Linked DNA regions of Homo sapiens. The protein of the gene in region 2 purifies or fractionates together with the protein of the main gene of each other region. This does not show direct contact. Each region holds a gene or a part of one and is shown on either strand. Other genes may lie near its edges.

Region 1 (3,819 bases), on a different chromosome or scaffold from region 2:
TTTTTCTTTTTTTGGGAATTTTTTAAAGAGACAGGGTCTTGCTCCGTCACCCAGGCTAGAGTGCAGAGGTACCATCATAGCTGACTGTCACCTCAAATTCCTGGACTCAAGCGATCCTTGTGCCTCACTGAGCCTCCTGGGTAGCAAGGAATACCTGCACATACCACCCAGCTAATTTTACTTCATTTATTTTTATTTATTTATTTAGGCAGAGTCTCGCTCTGTCACCCAGGCTGGAGTGCAGTAGTGAGATCTTGGCTCACTGCAACCTCTGCCTCCCGGGCTCAAGTGATTCTCGTGCCTCAGCCCCCTGAGTAGCTGGGACCACAGGCGTGTGCCAGCACACTCACCTAATTTTTGTATTTTTAGTTGAGACAGGGTTTCGCCGTGTTGGCCGGCTGGTTTTGAACTCCTGCCATCAAGTGATCCGCCTGCCTTGGCCTCCCAAAGTGCTGGAATTATAGGAATGAGCCACCATGCCTGGCTGTCCTGCCTTTTTAAATAAGAGCTTATATTCAAGGTGACATTAGACACTTAATGAATCGTGAGATTTTAGACAGTGGCAGTGCTGTGAAGGAAATAACTCTGACGTGTAATCTTGCCTCCATCCCTGTCACTGTGCCGAAAAAGATCACTGCTCACTATCTTTCTGTTTTTTAAACTTAACTATGGGTTTTTAAGACTTAGAAAAAAGGAGAGAGGCTAGCAGAGGGAACCATTGCTCAGTGACAGCGGCTGTCAGGCACAACAGCACAAATGATGCTGTTTTTATATTCCCCTTTCCTCCCCCTTTTCTTTCTCACTTTGGTGTTTGAAAGCCCCTTCCAGACATTGCATCACATCACCCTGGGCCTGGCCCTGGTGGTGCTTCGCTGTGCCATCCTCATCTGTGAGCCTGCCCGGTGACCGTGCTGCACCTGTCCTTGATGCCCTGTGTCTTCCAGGTCTGCTCCTCCCCTGCTGCTCTTCCTGTTCCATGTTCTTTGGCTGGTTTTTCTTTCTTCTTCCAGCTGTGTGACTCCTTTTCAAGCCTTTGTCCAGTTAAACATTTTACCAAGAATGTAGTGTTCTTCCTGCATTTCATTAGGAAGAGAAAAAGGCTTGCAAACATTCTGAGAAAAAATGTTGTTCACCGAGGCTATGTGTTTTGGAAATGCCATTTAGATGTTTTGCTGCTTTTAATCTTTGGCATTAATTTCAGTTGCTGTCATAAAAAAGAATTAAGACATAAACCAGAAAAGTAATTAAATGTGTCTGCAAAGGAAAAACAGAAACTGCAGAATATGGTATTTCAAGGTCATAAATTACAAATGTGCATATTTATTATTCCCCTATAAAATGTTAATTAAAAAATTTTCATATTTACTTGATGTAACAGAAATGAAACCTGTAATGAGGGATCTAATTTCTTTTTCTTTTTTCATTCCAGAATGTATGACAACATGTCCACAATGGTGTACATAAAGGAAGACAAGTTGGAGAAGCTTACACAGGATGAAATTATTTCTAAGACAAAGCAAGTAATTCAGGGGCTGGAAGCTTTGAAGAATGAGCACAATTCCATTTTACAAAGTTTGCTGGAGACACTGAAGTGTTTGAAGAAAGATGATGAAAGTAATTTGGTGGAGGAGAAATCAAACATGATCCGGAAGTCACTGGAGATGTTGGAGCTCGGCCTGAGTGAGGCACAGGTACGAGTGAGAATGACTCAGACGTTATCAGGAACTTTTGATGGTAAAATGGAGACTTGTTTGAAATAAGCAGTTTCACTAAAGAAGAGGAAAGATGATTATAGAATAACAGATCCAGGCCGAGTGCGGTGTGGCTCAGGCCTGTAATCCAAGCACTTTGGGAGGCTGAGGCAGGTGGATCACTTGAGGTCAGGAGTTTGAGACCAGCCTGGCCAACATAGCGAAACCCTGACTCTACTAAAAATACAAAAATTAGCCGGGCCTGGTGGCTGGCGTGTGTAATCCAGCTACTAGGCAGGCTTGAGGCAGGAGAATCACTTGAACCTGGGAGGCAGAGGTTGCAGGGAGCCAAAATTGCATCACTGCACTCCAGCCTGGGTGACAGAGCGAGACTTTTTCTCAAAGAAAAAACAAAACAAAACAGATCATGTGTTCTGTATGTTAATAAATTACTATTGATTTGGGCCTATCAGAATTGTATTGATTGATTGATTGAGATGGAGTTTTGCTCTTGCTGCCCAGGCTGGAGTGCAGTGATGCAGTCTCGGCTCACTGCATCCTCTGCCTCCTGGGCTCAAATGATTCTCCTGCCTCAGCCTCCCAAGTAGCTGGGATTACAGGCATGGGCCACCACACCTGGCTAATTTTGTATTTTTAGTAGAGACAGGGTTTCTCCATGTTGGTTAGGCTGGTCTTGAACTCCCAACCTCACGTGATCCACCTGCCTCAGCAAAGTGTTGGGATTACAGGCGCGAGCCACCATGCCCGGCCTCTGAATTTTATTTTTATTTTTATTTTTTTGAGACAGTGTTTGCTCTCGCCGCCCAGGCTGGAGTGCAATGGCTCAATCTCAGATCACTGCAACCTCTGTCCCCCGGGTTCAAGTGATTCTCCTGCCTCAGCCTCCCAAGTAGCTGGGATTACAGGCACATACCACCATTCCTGGCTAATTTTTTGTATTTTTAGTAGAAACTAAAATGTTGGCCAGGCTGGTCTTGAACTCCTGACCTCAGGGCCTCTCTGAATTTTGAAAAGCGGATCCAAAATAGTGGATACTGCTGTGTATCATTTAGGATTTGATTTGGCTGCCAGTATCAAAAAAACAAAAACAGTGGCTTAAACCACAAGATGTTTGTCAAATAAGTACTGAGGTACACTCTCCTGGACGGGTTCTGTAGCTACACAGTCATCGGGGATACTCAGGTTCCTAACATCTGCCACACTGCACCTTGGCAGCCTGTCTTGGGGACTGAGAGTGAGCTCCATGTGGCCCTGTTCTAGCATAGGGGAAGGGAAAGGAAGGACGTGCCTCCTTCCTTGAAGGCTGCTGCTTTGATGATGTGTACAGCAGTGCTTACATTGCATTGGCCAGACCTTATGGCTGTACCTGGGTGAGTGGGAGACTGGGGAATGTTGTCTTCCCACTTACAGTGGCAGGTCCTTAAGCCTAAGGAAGGAGAATGGACACTGGCCAGTGGGTGATGGTCTCTGCAATCCCAGGGCCAGATTGCTTCATATCTTTGACTAACCTTTGTTTCTATAATATCATGCTTGACATAGAGATGAAAACACTGGAAACATCTAGGTTTTTAAATACTCTCTCCTGATAACTTCTGGCTCTGTCAGCATATCTTAGGTAAAATTAAATATACCAAAGCTTTGCTTCTTTCTTAGCATTCTCTAGTTTAGTGAGTGAATAGAGCAGAAGAGGGGCTGCTGGCCAGCGGTTTCTGCTTTCATAGAGGAAGTGACTGCCCACACCCTGATTTTAGAGTCTTCATCCTAACCATGTTACAGCCTTGAGTTGCAGAACTGTAGCTCTGTTTGGATATTGTGAACGTATTATTTCTCAAGTTCTGTTACCTTGAGAACAGGTGACATGAATTTAAACTTGCTTTTTTGGTGTCGCAGATAAGAGTTTTAAAAAAAGAAGGAAGAAAAGGTCCCACCTTCTGGAGTTTCAGGTTTTAAACCTAGGAGGATAATAACCTGGTTATTATGTTATGAGAGGGATGGGCAGATGTATGTTCTAAAGAGAGAACAGATTGCTGCCAGCCAGCTCCTAGCTGTTTGTGCTCTTATGCTCCTAGGAACTTGCCACAGCCTCACGCTGGTCTGTTCCAGAAAC
Region 2 (3,473 bases):
CTAAGCCCTGGTATAGCAGGTTCTAGAATGCTCACGTGTACTGCACGTCAGGTTTTAAAGGGGGCTGCAAAGACACAAAAAGCCAGCAAGCCCCTGTGGCCTGACAGGGCACTATGGGCTTTCTCTGTCCTGGGTATAGTGAGGTAGTCACAAGTGCAAAATACTCCTGAGTAGGTAAAATACTCCCCCAAGGCTTCAGTTTCCCATCATGAAAAAGGAGGCCCTTCACATGTCTCTCTAATCTGTCCACCTCTTTCTAACAGGCTCATAAGTTACATGATGGAAGGACTCATGTGGTTCTTATGTGACAGTGGAACTAACGCTGACATGAATCAGATGTCTGGGTTGCAGCCTCAGTCCTGTCACTTATTAGCTGGGAGAGCTTTGGACTGTTCCAGCCTCTCAATCTAAATGAGCCACTTTTGATTCTGAGAGGTAGTGAAGAATAACAGTACTAAGGCCTCCTTGAGCTTAATAACTGGAATGGGTTTTGTGGGGTTTATCACTAATGTCTCCTGAGTGCTGGTCACCATGTCTCAGGCAATAGCCCTAAGGTGTCTACATGGATCACCTCATTACAGCTTATAGCCAGGTCTTATAATGATCAATTCCATGTTTTAGATGAGGAACCAGGGGCTCAGGTTAAGTAACTTGCCCTTGCCCTTGATCACACTGGTCTTTTGTCTCCAAGGCCAAGTATATACTCAGGCCTCATACCTGAGGACCACAACTCAGAAGGTCAGGCAGGGTTTGATGTCTGTTTTCTTTTTTCCTTTTTTTTTTTTTTTCAAAAACAGAAATGGGGTCTCACTATATTGGCCAGGCTGGTCTTGAACTCCTCGCCTCAAGCAATCCTCCCACCTTGGCCTCCCAAAGTGTTGGGATTACAGGTGTGAGCCACCGCGCTCAGCATGACATCTGTTTTCTTAAGCAGTTTCTCAGGCAATTTTGATACAGAGCTAAGGTCAAGAACTTGACCCTCTATCCACCCTGGAACTGAGGAAAAGTGCAGCCTGCTGATGACCAATGTTGTGGGTCTGAGCAGGAAGCTCCAGCTCCTTTCCCACCACCTGTCACCTCAGACAGGAGCAGGGACCCTCCTGAGGGGACAGCTGGGCTGGCTGGGGAGAGCTCTCACACCCAGGACCATTAGGCTCGCTTCCCTCTGACCCACCAGGCCCACTCACCTCCCCGGAGGCATCCACTTTGGAAAGTGCCATCTGCACCTCCTCTTCAGTCATGTCCAAGTCAAAGTCTTTCTCCCAGTCCTCACTGATGTCCGTGCTTGAGCCTGGAACCACGAGCCACAGTGTGAAAAGCAGGAGGAGGCAGGGAAGGGGCACCTGAAGAGGGTGTAGCTGGGGAGATAGCATGCTTCAAAAGGGTCTCACAAATACACAAGTCTTTACATTTTGTGTTCACTCTGGCGCACCAATCGTACTTTTTTTTTTTGTTTTCTTAGATGGAGTCTTGCTGTCACCCAGGCTGGAGTGCAGTGGTGTGATCCCGGCCCACTGCAACCTCTGCTTCCCAGGTTCAAGCGATTCTCCTGCCTCAGCCTCCCAAGTAGCTGGGACTACAGGCGCACGCCCCACACACCTGGCTAATTTTTGTATTTTTAGTAGAGACGGGGTTTCACCATGTTGGCCAGGCTGGTTTCAAACTCCTGACCTCAATGATCTGGCCACCTCGGCCTCCCAAGGTGCTGGGATTATAGGTGTGAGCCACCGCACCTGGCCCCCACTTTTAAGAATCTATTCTAAGGAAAAATCTTGGATTCAGTCAGAAATTTAGCAAAGAGTGTTCACTGCAGTGCTGTCATAGTGATGGAAACCTAGAAACAATCTGAAAGCCCACTGACAGGGAATTAGACAAGTAAACAGTGAGTTACATGGTGGAACACTGTAGGCTGTTAGAGGTTAGGCTGGAGAAGAACTTCACATCCATGCCAAACAGCCTTAAACTATTACCTCGGAAAAGGCAGGTTACTAAAGAGCGGAGAAGCACTTTGGCCCAGAGGCTCCAAGAGAGTCACAGAAATCTTCCAGAGGAAATCAACAGTGAACTGAGACCTTGTCTCTAGAAAAAAATTTAAAAATTAGCCAGGCATGGTAGTACACACCTAAGGAGTCCCAGCTACTCAGGAGGCTGAGGTGTGGTGATCACTTGAGCCCAGGAGTTCAAGGCTGCAGTGAGCTATGATCATGCCACTGCAGTCCAGCCTGTTGACAGTGCAAAACCCTGTCTCTAAAGAAAACAAAAACCTCCCCTCGGACCCCCAAACAGTAGACCTCTTCTTCCTCACTCCATTCTGCCCACACTAATCTTGTTCCTCCAGAAACATACCAGGCGCATTCCCAACTTAGGGCTTTTGCATGGGCTGTTCCCTGCACCTGGAACTCGTATCCTCAGATATCTACAAGACCAACTTTTCACCTCCTTCATGCCATTGCTCAAATCGTACCTTCTAGATGTGGCCTACACTGACCATCCTAGTTTAAAGAGCAACCCATCATCACCCTCACTCTGCTCTAGTTGTTCTTTTTTTTCTGAGACAGAGTCTCGCTCTGTCACCCAGGCTGGAGTGCAGTGGCACGATCTCAGCTCCCTGCAACCTCCGCCTCCTGGGTTCAAGAGATTCTCTTGCCTCAGCCTCCTGAGTAGCTGGGATTACAGGCACCTGCCTGGTACCACATCCAGCTAATTTTTGTATTTTTACTTATTTATTTATTTTTTGAGACGGAGTCTCGCTCTGTTGCCCAGGCTGGAGTGCAGTGGCGCGATCCTAGCTCACTGCAACCTCTGCCTCGCAGGTTCAAGTGATTCTCCTGCCTCAGCCTCCTGAGTAGCTGAGATTACAGGGGCATGCCACCATGCCTGGATAATTTTTGTATTTTTAGTAGAAACGGGGTTTCACTATGTTGGCCAGGCTGGTCTCAAACTCCTGACCTTAGGTGATCCGCCTGCTTTGACCTCCCAAAGTACTGGGATTATAGGCGTGAGCCACTGCGCCTGGCTCTGGATTGTTCTTTTTCCCATTGTAGTGATCACTTTCTAACATATTACATAATCAGACTTAATATGTTTATTGTATATTAATAGAGGAGTTAGAATATAAGCCCTGTGAGTGCCAGGATCTTTTGTTTTGTTCTCTTATGTATTTCAAGTTTTTAGAACACATAGTTGGCACTCAATAGTCACAGACCCTTTCTGTAAACCAGGGGTTGGCAAACTATGGCCCAGGGATCAAATCTAGCCATGTCGCCGGGCGTGGTGGCTCACGCTTGTAATCCCAGCACTTTGGGAGGCCGAGACAGGTGGATCACGAGGTCAGAAGATCGAGACCACCCTGGCTAATGTGGTGAAACCCCATCTCTACTAAAAATACAAAAAATTAGCTGGGGGTGGTGGCAAGCGCCTGTTAGTCCCAGCTACTCGGGAGGCTGAGGCAGAAGAATCGCTTGAACCCGGGA

The links.
Region 1: the proteins of BSDC1 (region 2) and KLC1 purify together in Homo sapiens (affinity purification with western blotting, with the first as the bait; one study listed by BioGRID). This does not show direct contact.

The regions. Positions count from the first base shown.
Region 1 is NC_000014.9:103,653,135-103,656,953, forward strand, and holds part of KLC1 (kinesin light chain 1), read left to right. Parts: intron 1-1,429; 5' UTR 1,430-1,430; coding exon 1,431-1,691; intron 1,692-3,819. UniProt on the Homo sapiens protein: Kinesin is a microtubule-associated force-producing protein that may play a role in organelle transport. The light chain may function in coupling of cargo to the heavy chain or in the modulation of its ATPase activity.
Region 2 is NC_000001.11:32,367,260-32,370,732, forward strand, and holds part of BSDC1 (BSD domain-containing protein 1), read right to left. Parts: intron 2,080-3,473; coding exon of another isoform or gene 1,971-2,079; intron 1,292-1,970; coding exon 1,188-1,291; coding exon of another isoform or gene 1,074-1,187; exon of another isoform or gene 1-1,073.